Regions from separate parts of the Homo sapiens genome. Here region 1 is reported to be linked to region 2. Evidence: microRNA targets listed by miRTarBase, many of them from high-throughput screens and not tested one by one. Region 2 holds a microRNA gene; the other region holds the end of a gene's coding sequence.
The links. The annotated mature microRNA hsa-miR-675-3p reads CUGUAUGCCCUCACCGCUCA and lies in region 2 at 3,772-3,791, opposite strand. An mRNA with a match to its seed (bases 2 to 7 or 8) in the 3' UTR can be bound and repressed. Matches are read on the target gene's strand: a 7mer-m8 pairs with bases 2 to 8, a 7mer-A1 pairs with bases 2 to 7 and ends in A, and an 8mer does both.

Region 1: miRTarBase lists PROX1 as a target of hsa-miR-675-3p. Seed matches in the 3' UTR shown: 7mer-m8 at 506-512.

The regions. Positions count from the first base shown.
Region 1 is chr1:214,035,309-214,040,308 of GRCh38, reverse strand. It overlaps PROX1 (prospero homeobox 1), which reads right to left. Exons shown (of 5, transcript NM_001270616.2): 5 at 1-4,660. The coding sequence ends at 4,475. Among named protein-coding and RNA genes, the nearest start is that of PROX1, 50 kb to the right of the region's middle.
Region 2 is chr11:1,992,997-1,998,517 of GRCh38, forward strand. It overlaps MIR675 (microRNA 675), which reads right to left and starts at 3,835; the gene lies at 3,763-3,835. LINC01219 (long intergenic non-protein coding RNA 1219) reads left to right here. Exons shown (of 3, transcript NR_126400.1): 3 at 259-473. H19 (H19 imprinted maternally expressed transcript) reads right to left here and starts at 4,846. Exons shown (of 5, transcript NR_002196.3): 1 at 3,522-4,846; 2 at 3,291-3,425; 3 at 3,083-3,195; 4 at 2,880-3,002; 5 at 2,180-2,798. It also overlaps a transcript of MRPL23 not described here. RefSeq lists enhancers at 4,358-5,205, 5,206-5,521.

The DNA.
Region 1 (5,000 bases), not on the chromosome of region 2:
CACATTCTGTTATATTCTTAGAAGGATAATTATAAGAAGATGCAAAGGTTAAATACCAGTTTTGATCCCAGCTCTGAATATGAGCATTTTAGCTTTAGTTTTATAGATGGTTTACAACCAACAGATCTACAGAAAACAAAACTGCATTTCCTTCAACATAACATTTAAGTGCAATACGGTAACTGCTTACTCATATAAACCAGTTACATTTTTTAAGGGGAGCTTTTTGAAAACAATGCTTCTTGTAAATTTGCAAACACAGAGTTTGTACCAGAAGGAAACATTTGTACTATTCACACCAATGAATACGCTATAATATACATGGCAAAGAGATTTTTGCACTGTCTTCACATATACACTGCTTCTTTCAGGGGAGTCTGTAAACTACTCTTTCTTTCATAAATTTATGATTGTTCCTGGAGGACATCCTATTTTTTAAAGTCCCCAAATCATTAGCTTTATGACAGTGTGTGTGTTTGTGTGTGTGTGTGTGTGTGTGTGTGTGTGTATGCGCACATGTGCGCATGGGAAGGGGGGGTGTTACTTACTAAATGTCTTCATGTACATAGAAAAAGAAATTTCATAAATTTACAGAAACTGCATTACCCTTGCCCTTGACATCTGATAAAAGAGATTGTTAACTTTTAAAAGGAGAGAGCAGGATTTTCAAGAATGCTTTCAACTGTCTATACAGTCACTGTAGTGTTCCTAGTAAATTCAACAGATGTCGTGAGAATGTAGTTATTTATTAAAATCTCATGTCTTACATAATGACAGCCATGAGGTTAAATATTTACATTGCTTTATAAAAGTTCCCCTCTTGCTTTAGTGTTTCTGTTTTGCTTTTTTTTTGTTGTTTTAAATTTTTTTAAATGATATTCACCCACATCCCTAGTACAGTGACAAAGATTCTGCAAACATAAAACACTTCTTTAATTAAATAATACTCGGAGGCACAAAGCAAACTTCAGGAATATGTGGGTGAACGTTTACTTAAATAATTACTACATTCTAACATCTTCCATGTGTTTTACCATTTAATGTGAAACGTCCTCATTAAACAGCCAGAGATACAGTAAGAATTAAATGTTTTGTTGCAAATAGAACATTCTTTTCACAAAACATAACAAATGTCTAAAATAGGTTCTTAAATCTAGATAGGAAAAGGTAAGCTTTCCACTTCACACGCATATATATATATGTATATTTTTACATGTGTGTATATGTGTGTATGTGATTTTATGTTCACACATCTGCGCACACATATATAGCACATGGTATGAAATATTGCTTCTATACTACTTTTCATTAGGCTAAGAAAACACAAGATTTGCACCACAGTTACAAAAAATTGGCTTCTACAAGAATTTTCAAAACTCGAATGCTGCTCAAACAATTGAGGAAAAAATAATTTGCGGTATCAAACTGTTCTAAAAATTCTCTTCTTCAAAAACGTATTCTCCCGCTTTGTTTTAAAAAGACACAAAATATGCATAGCTATCAACGTTATGTCAAACAGCCAGAAAAAAAATCTAGTGTTTATTGCAGCTGTAGTAATTGGAAATAAAGTCAAAAAGATGAAATCGAAAGCCACAGAAGGCACAAGAACAATTGTACTTGTTGGGAAAAAACTGGTATTTTGAAGGATTTTTTAAAATCCCCCCCGCTGGTGCATTTTAGGTCTAGGCACAGACTATAACCTCAAGCGTATACGCAAAAATAATTTAGGGTTAGCAGAAAATAAGTGGTAGTGTGGTTTTTCAACATGGACTTTAGACTTTTTTTTTTCTTTTCCTATGTAAACTGTCCCTCATCCTTCACCATCCCACCATAGAAAGTTAACTTTCTCCCAAGTAGCCAATTTTCACTTGGTGAGAGTTGAGCTAAGATTTGAAAGATGGTGATTAAAAAAAAAAAATCAAACTGTTAAATAGGAATTTGGAGAGACAGGCTTTTGTCATTTTCCAATGCACTTGGGAGGCACAAGATTTCGATTGTAAAAGGGAAAACCACCGGAAAGCATAGTGATAAAGTTCTATTTTCAGAACAAAGAGGTGAGTTTATCCTCATGCTGCAATTTCTACTCTGAAATAATTTCTATGCCTCAGTGAACATTGAGAGGATATTATCAGTAGATAAGGGCATCAACATTTGGTTGTGAACACACACTTTTGCTTAATTTGTCTATTTAAATTAGAAAGGGAGGGGAAAATAATACTAAAAAAATCCAAATAAGTCTGGAATCAATATTGAACTCGCCCCAGATCAAAAAGATATCTAGCAATCTGTCTACATAGGTGAATACACTACAGCTTTGCCTTTTACCTTGCAAATGGCAACACAAAGTTGATATGAATTACACGGAACAGCAAAAACCCAGTGGCACACTGACACGAACAAGGACTGCCATCCTCTTTTAAAACAAAGCCAGTCAGAAAACTGTGACTACAAGTTGGGATTACTTCCCTATTTTGTGCTGATGGAATTTTTCCTTCCCACTTTATTCCAATGTCATGATTATCCAAACTGCTTTTTTTTAAAGCAAGTGAGAAAAATAACAAATTGGATCTAATGACTCTGTGCATTAGTAGAGTGTGAGCTGGGAGATGTGTGAGGCCGCGGGTGCAGAGTGAGGTGGCTGGTGCCCCCGCCCGTGTGGCTGCACCCTCTGTCTACACTGCGAGGCCCTGTTAGTCCCCTGGATGGTGCAGGGCATCATAGGACTGCACCATTTAATTTAAAGTCAGCAGGTTTTAAGGCTTTGTGCTGACAATAATTGAGTTCATACATTCCTGTCCATCAGCAGAATTTATAAATGACGTTAAATTACAGCGATCGGGTCAGCTAGTCAGTCACATGGGTCAAGACCTGTATTCTCCAAAGTCAAATGTAATTCTTATTAAAGTTGAATTAAAAAATGGCATTTATGTTCTATATGTTCTAAATACCAGATTTGTTACTGTGTCATTTTAGGAGGTGTATATCAAATTACCTAAGGGGAAGGAAGGGTCTGGAAAACAGTTTTAGGATGAACAATGAATTCTTACTGCATCTGGACACAAAAACCCACCTAAGAAAAAAAGTGTGAATGCCATACGAGTTTTTTCAATGCAAGTAGGGAACACTGTACATCATTGAAAAACAGGGAAAAATAAAAGGGAAAAAAGAGGAGAACCATGGAAGAAAGCATAAAATAGCAGCTAGCTTTCTTATGTGTGCTGGAATTGTGTCTTTTGGGTTAACCCCAAATTTTCCTATGCTATACACTCTTCTCACATTTTGGTCAATACTAGCTTCTGAATTGGAAGAGGCATTATCAATTGCTTTAAAATGTTATACCTAAAATGAAGAAACACTGAGTTAGACTGTCACCACTTTGCATACCCATCAGGATAGTGTGGAATTGCTTGTGAAAATATATGTGTTCCTCTTAGGAGATGACGATCAAGTCAGCTAATGGCTGTCAACAAACTTCTAGTGTAGGCAAGAATTTTATGGCCAAGTTGGGCTTTCCTTTATTCCTTACTGGAAGGAAGTATTCAGAAAATAGTATTTTAGGGGAAAAAATTGTTAAGTAAACAGAATCCTTTTAAGCATATAAACAAAGTTGAGCAGCGTAAATTGGAAACTTAGTGCCTTTTAGTATCTGAAGCAAAAATGATAACAAGTTATAGGATTTTTCTTTATGAAGAATGATGTAAGCTCACTTATGAAGAAGAACCTATTTTCAAGTTTAGAGAGGTGGCTACAAGACCAGGTATGAATTTCTAGTCTCATCTTGAGAGAGCTGGTTTTGTGCAAAATTGCTTTGCCTCCAGAAGAAACTGGTACGACTTTCAGAGTTTGCCTCTTTTCTTAGACAAGGCTTGAGAGTGATTATTTTTCTTTTTTAATTTGGCCTTTTGGGGTACTTTGGAAAAGTGAGCTGCTCATCTGTCATTGGAATTATTTTTAAACATGTAAGGAAAAGCTACTGATTGAGTTCAAACCAAACAAAATACTTAAATGTATGAAGTGGTTTCATTAAATTTTCAGACCTTCTTAGCAGTAGAAACAAGAGACACATCACTGTCTGTAGAGTTGTGCTGTGTCATGGGTTTTCCTCAGCCAACCGCCATTTGCAATAAGTCATCAATCAAGTGGATGCATCGTTAACAAATTCCCTTCATTGCTAATAGAGACTTTACACACGCCAACATTCTTTTTCCCTGAAAATTAACCCTATTTTAAGTGTCCAAATGTTAAGGGCCTTGGGCAAAAGCAAACTAAAGGCAGAAAGAAAACAACCATCCCCTTGCAATGGAAAACAAAAGAAAATGAGAGAAACGTGATGAGGAGGAATTACCAGCTGATTTCATAACATATCCATGCCTCCCATACACATATATATGAAATCAAAATCTAGACACATATAACTTGGACATCCAAAGGGGACTGCTACTCTTCATACATTCAAAAAGAGTTGTTGAAATTTCTACTCATGAAGCAGCTCTTGTAGGCAGTTCGGGGATTTGAAAATCTCAGGGACTTCACTATCCAGCTTGCAGATGACCTTGTATATGGCCTTCTTCCAGGAAGGATCAACATCTTTGCCTGCGATAATGGCATTGAAAAACTCCCGTAATGTGATCTGAGCAACTTCCAGGAATCTCTCTGGAACCTGCTGATACAAGGAGACAATGGCATTAATAAAGTTTTCAGTTTCAAGTCTACAGTTATTCCAAGGAAACTGAGCTAAGATCATTCTTGCAGAAAGGGGCTTACATGGCACCTGCATTTTCTAAAAATAGCTGGCTTCTATTCTTTTAATGTAAAGTCATTATATATAGAAGCATTGTGATGTGGGGTTGACAGCTTTGTTTTAAGAAGAGTGTATGAAAGATCCAACGCAGACCTATTGAAAAACTGGGATTTCATTGTGGATATTAGGATAGGAATATGGGATGTGACTTTTGGGATTCCTCACTTTATTAAATAAGTGCTATCCAGAAGAAAGTCTC
Region 2 (5,521 bases):
CCAGACCCCCTCCAGCACTCAGGGGCTGCCCTAGGGACACCACCCCAGGAACTGCCCTAGGAAGCCCGTTCCGCTGCAGGGAGCAGAGAAACCTGGGCTGCCCAGAGGTAGGCGCTGCCCCTGAGTACACGTCCTGCTCTCAGGGGGCAGCCAGCGTGGGCACAGCCATGGGCAGTGCTGGGAGATGGTGGGGGCCACCAAGAGGCCTGTGTCCCTTCCCCAGCGGGTGTGAGGAGGAACAGCCCTGTCCCCATACAGCTCCCAGGTGGAAACTCCAGAGCAAGCGTGTCATTCATACACCCCGGGCCCAGAGATGTGGACGTGTCCAGCACGCCTGTTCTCTCCAAGTGACCAGGAGGAGACAATCCCTAGGAGCTGACACAGGTGACGAAGGCCCGAGGTGGCCCGCCTTTTCCCCCGGCCCCATTCCCATGTGTCCTTCCCCAGGCAGGGATTTGAAGTGGGCAGAGTCTTCCATGTTCTCCAGGAGAGGTTTTCTGGGTGCCCCTCTCCCCCTCCCTACGGTTCCCCTGCCCCGCCACCCTGGGCACCCCTGGGGCTGCCTGCCGCACCCTGCAGCCGCCACCTGGGGAAGCCGGCTTTTATCTCCTGAGCCCTGCTTTGTAAACCTCCTGCAGAGTTGGATGTTTATAATAAAGGCCGTTTATAGACCTAACTCTTGACATGTAATGGATGGGTTACTTCATCCTGCCGGCCAAAACCCACTTGGGTAAGTCAAATTGGCCTGTAGGGTCAGGAAGATGAATGCGGCCTCACCCTGGGCTGGCCCCAGCGACCTCTGACCTCCTCCATGAGATGGCAGCCAGTCCCAGGGGCACCATCCCAGAGACTTCAAGAGACTCCCTCACCGGATGTCTACATGCATCCTGGGGGGTGACCACCCGCCCAGGTTTTAGCACACAAGTGTGTCCCTGGAAACCCCTCGGTCTCTGACAGTCCCCAGGGCCCACAGCTGGATGGGGAGGGGGCAAGAGAGGGTGCAGAGGGGAGGCCAGACCCAAGGGACGTGGGGAACCACCCTGCTCTTCCGCCCTGGACACCAAGACCCCAAGGGCGGCTGGGCCGGTAGGGGAGGGGCGTCCCTAACCGCCTTCCTGTCTGTTCTTTGTCAGTCGGGGAGGAATTTTCCTGACAGCTCTGTGCACTGGGAATGGGGGTGGAAGGCAGGGGGGAGGGGGGAAGGAATGGGGAGGCCGGGACCCCACCCTTATTTCCAGGGGCTGCCCCTTGTGTTCCCAGCGCCTGCACAGCGAGGGGCCGGGAGCTGGGAGGCCTGGCTGAGGGAGCTGCCGGCCACTGGCCTCTGCGGGGAAGCTGACCCGGAACCCATGAGTGGGCTGCCTTGGCACCTGGGGAGCGAACCCCTGCATACCGGGGTTCTTGGAGCTCCAGCAGCAAGACCCCGGGGAGGGAGCCCGGGAGCCCCTCACCCTGGGCCCTCCCGCTCCTCCTCACCTCCTCCCTGTGGCCACCCTCAACTTCTTCCTCCCTCCTCCTGGTCCCCTGGCCTCCTTAGGACCTCTGCCCCAAGGCCACCTGCCCACTGAGAAGCCCACCGGCTCCCCCACAACCCCCTGGCTCCTTGTGCGGGGCCGTCCCTCCGGCGTGGCCCCGGCTCCCACCCACAGCAAAAGGGGAGCAGGAACGGGACTGGCGCGGGGTTCGTGCCCCTGTCGGGGTGGGGTCGCCCAGAGCACCTTGTGGGCCTCCCAGAGCGGCCATGGCCAGCTCTACCCCAGTCACCTAGCCCGGGCTTCAGGGGTCTGGGGCCAGCACCAAGGCGTCATTCTGATGGGACTTTGGGGCGACAGGAGGCACTCGCTCGGGGATGGTTTGGTGGTCCCCGACCCCTGCCTCAGAGCGCAGGCCCCCTCCGCAAGCCCAGCCCCCGCCCAGTCTGTGAAGCCCCTGGTCCCACAGCCCCTCCACTGCCATCACTGCATGCTGACCGCCTGCCCTGCACCCCTGAGGTCCACACACCCTGTGCTCACCCCACCCCTGGTGTGTGCTGCGCTGCACCCATCCCAGAATCCCCCACCCTGGAACCCCCATCCCCCTTTTCATGTACTCCTCCCCATGCCCCCCAGCCCCCCTCTGCCCAAGGCTGGCCTCCCCCACATCATGCCCACAGCCCGGATTCCAGAGTCCTCGAGACAAATTGCTGTAACAGTGTTTATTGATGATGAGTCCAGGGCTCCTGCTGAAGCCCTGGTGGGGAGGGGCACAGAGCGAGATGGGGCGTAATGGAATGCTTGAAGGCTGCTCCGTGATGTCGGTCGGAGCTTCCAGACTAGGCGAGGGCAGGGTGAGGCCTCGGGCACACAGCCGGCGCCCAGTCACCCGGCCCAGATGGAGGGCGGCCGGGCCCTGCACAGGCACTTGCCAAGGTGGCTCACACTCACGCACACTCGTACTGAGACTCAAGGCCGTCTCCACAACTCCAACCAGTGCAAATGACTTAGTGCAAATTAAATTCAGAAGGGACGGGGGAAACAGAGTCGTGGAGGCTTTGAATCTCTCAGAAAAAAGGAAAGACAGGAAAGCTCAGAAACAAAGAGACAGAAGGATGAAAAAGAAGAAGAGGGAGGTGGTGGGGACGGCGTCATCCCGCTGGAGGAGCTCAGCTCTGGGATGATGTGGTGGCTGGTGGTCAACCGTCCGCCGCAGGGGGTGGCCATGAAGATGGAGTCGCCGGTGCGGGGTGGGTGCTGCGGGCGCTGCTGTTCCGATGGTGTCTTTGATGTTGGGCTGATGAGGTCTGGTTCCTCTAGCTTCACCTAGAGATAGCGACACGTGGGTGGGATGGGGGCAGGGTGCTCGGGGGCCTGGAGGCTTCCGGAAGGAGCGCTGGTGCTCACCTTCCAGAGCCGATTCCTGAGTCAGGTAGTGCAGTGGTTGTAAAGTGCAGCATATTCATTTCCAAGCTAGAGGGTTTTGTGTCCGGATTCAAAGGCCCAGGCTTGAGCTGGGTAGCACCATTTCTGTGGATGGGGAAGGAGTGAGGTCCCACTCAGCTCCTCTCGCGTGCCCCCCACCCCAAGTGTGGCAGGAAGCCCCTCACCTTTCATGTTGTGGGTTCTGGGAGCCCAGAGGGCAGCCATAGTGTGCCGACTCCGTGGAGGAAGTAAAGAAACAGACCCGCTTCTTGCCGCAGCCCCACCAGCCTAAGGTGTTCTGTAGAAGACAGAGGTCGGGGCAGTGAGATGGTGGCCCGGCGGGGCGGTCTGGGCAGGGCCGCGTCCTGACGCAGGGAGGGCAGACACGCTCACCAGGAAGGCCGGACGCGCCTCCTCTGTCCTCGCCGTCACACCGGACCATGTCATGTCCTGCTTGTCACGTCCACCGGACCTGGCGTCTTGGCCTTCGGCAGCTGGTGGGCACGTCCACCCCAGCTGGAGACCTGGCTGTGGGGAGAACGAGAGAGTCGTGTGGGGAGAACGTGTTGGTTGTGTGGGGAGGGGCGGGTGGGGGCTGAGGGTGGCAGAGGGGGAAAAACTCACCCTCGTCTCCAGCCCGAACGCTGAGGCACCGATCCCGGCTCCGTCGCCGCCCGCGAGGCCCGCCTTGGCCACGGGCTCTGGAGGCCAGTGCCTCCCGCTCGCCGCCCGCTGCGCTCCTCACCCCTGCCTGCACCATCCTCCCTCCTGAGAGCTCATTCACTCCGCCCCGCCCGCCTCGCCTAGTCTGGTCTCGCCCCATGCCCTTGACTCCCCTGGATGCTGTACTGTCTGCCAAGCCAGCCCCAGGGGCTGAGCGGTGAGGGCATACAGCGTCACCAAGTCCACTGTGGGCCCTCTCCGCACCAGACCCTGGGCCGCAGTGCCTCGTGGGACCGGCGCCCGCAGGCCGAGCCCCTGCAGCCTCCTTGCTGCGCAATGTCCCGGGGCCCCCCTCCCGTGGCCGCTTCGCCCTCCTGGTGACGTCCTGCTGCAACTCCCCGAGCACTGCCTGTCTTCCCGCTCTCCAGCCCTCGAGGCTCCGGCATAGGCCTGAGAAAGCCGTGCCGGAGCTGCCCCTGTGCCTGCTACTAAATGAATTGCGGTGGGTGAGGTGGCAGCTGGGGACCCCTCTGTCCTGTGTCCCCTGCCATGTCCCTGTCTGACCCAGGCCTGGGGTACCACCCCACGTGCTGGACCCTACGCTGGCCACCCCTGTGCTCCCTCCCTGCCCTCTTGCTCTTTCTGCCTGGAACGGGCCCATAACCCCCCAGCCTTGCGCAGTCTCGGCTCCCCCCGAGAAGATGTCACCTTTGCTAACTCTCCTGCCCCCATCCTGCCCCTCTGCTGGGAGGGTGTCTGCTTCTCCCCGCCAGCCCTCGATCCCCTAAACCTCCTTCTTTCAGAAGGCTGGGGAAGCGAGGCCTGGGGAGGGAAGGGACTCACCTGCCCGGCAGATGGGGTCCTCACCTGCCCGCTGCTGCCAGCTACACCTCCGTTGCCCAGGCCCTGGGATCAAACCCTGCCCACCAGCTCCCCTCGTCCAACCAGCTGCCACGTCCTGTAACCAAAAGTGACCGGGATGAATGCCTGGCTCCCCCTTCTTTCCAGCCCTAGCTCAGGCCCATCGTCCCCAGCTGATGTCGCCCTGTCTGCACGATGCCTGGGCGCCTACTCCACACTCCTCACTGGCCTCAGGCCCCACCAGCCCTGCCTCGAGCTAGCCCCTCCACCCGTCATCACTCCTGCCAGACTCCAGATGTCCAAGGTGCTCCTTGGCTCCCACAAGCTCTCCTCCAGCACCCCATCTTCCCCTGGTTGCCCCTCGGTTCCCCACTTCCCCAGTTTCCCCCGTTACCCCCCACCCATCCCACCCCCTCCCTCACCCTGCTCCTCGGTCCTAGCCCGGGCTTTTTCTAACTGGGGTGGCCCCGCCCAGAATTCCCGCCCCTGCCCTGCCGGCCAATCAGAGCAGGGCCCTCCCGAGGGCCCCCGCAGGGCCCACCTCCGCCCTGGACAGTTCCAGCACACGTCTCTCTCACCCAGCACCCATCCTGGAATTCTCCAAAGACGGCCTCCCCGCACCCCTCCTTTGGCATCCGGAGACAGGGCTGAGCATTGCCCCATCACCTCCCTCAGGGTCCAGGACTTCTCCCTCCCAGACCACTGTCTCCCCTCAGGGGACACCATGCCTGCTGCTCCCTGCCTGCCAGCGCCCTGCACATACTTTGCACATGGCTGGGGGCCAGCTGCGGGTCCCTGGGGACTCGGATGGCACAGAGGGCCCCTTCCTGCCACCATCACGGCTCAGACCTCACGTTCCTGGAGAGTAGGGGTGGGGTGCTGAGGGGCAGAGGGAAGTGCCGCAAACCCCCTGGTGGGCGCGGTGCCAGCCCCCCAGGCCGATTCCCATCCAGTTGACCGAGCTTGTGCTGGTCACCGCGGTTTCCGCAGGACAGAGTCCCCACAGCCGCTGGGCACCCCGGTCCCATTCGCGGCCACTTTCCTGTCTGAAGACCGCATGTTGCCGGGCTGTGCTTACGGCTCGCGGGCGCACTCTACTG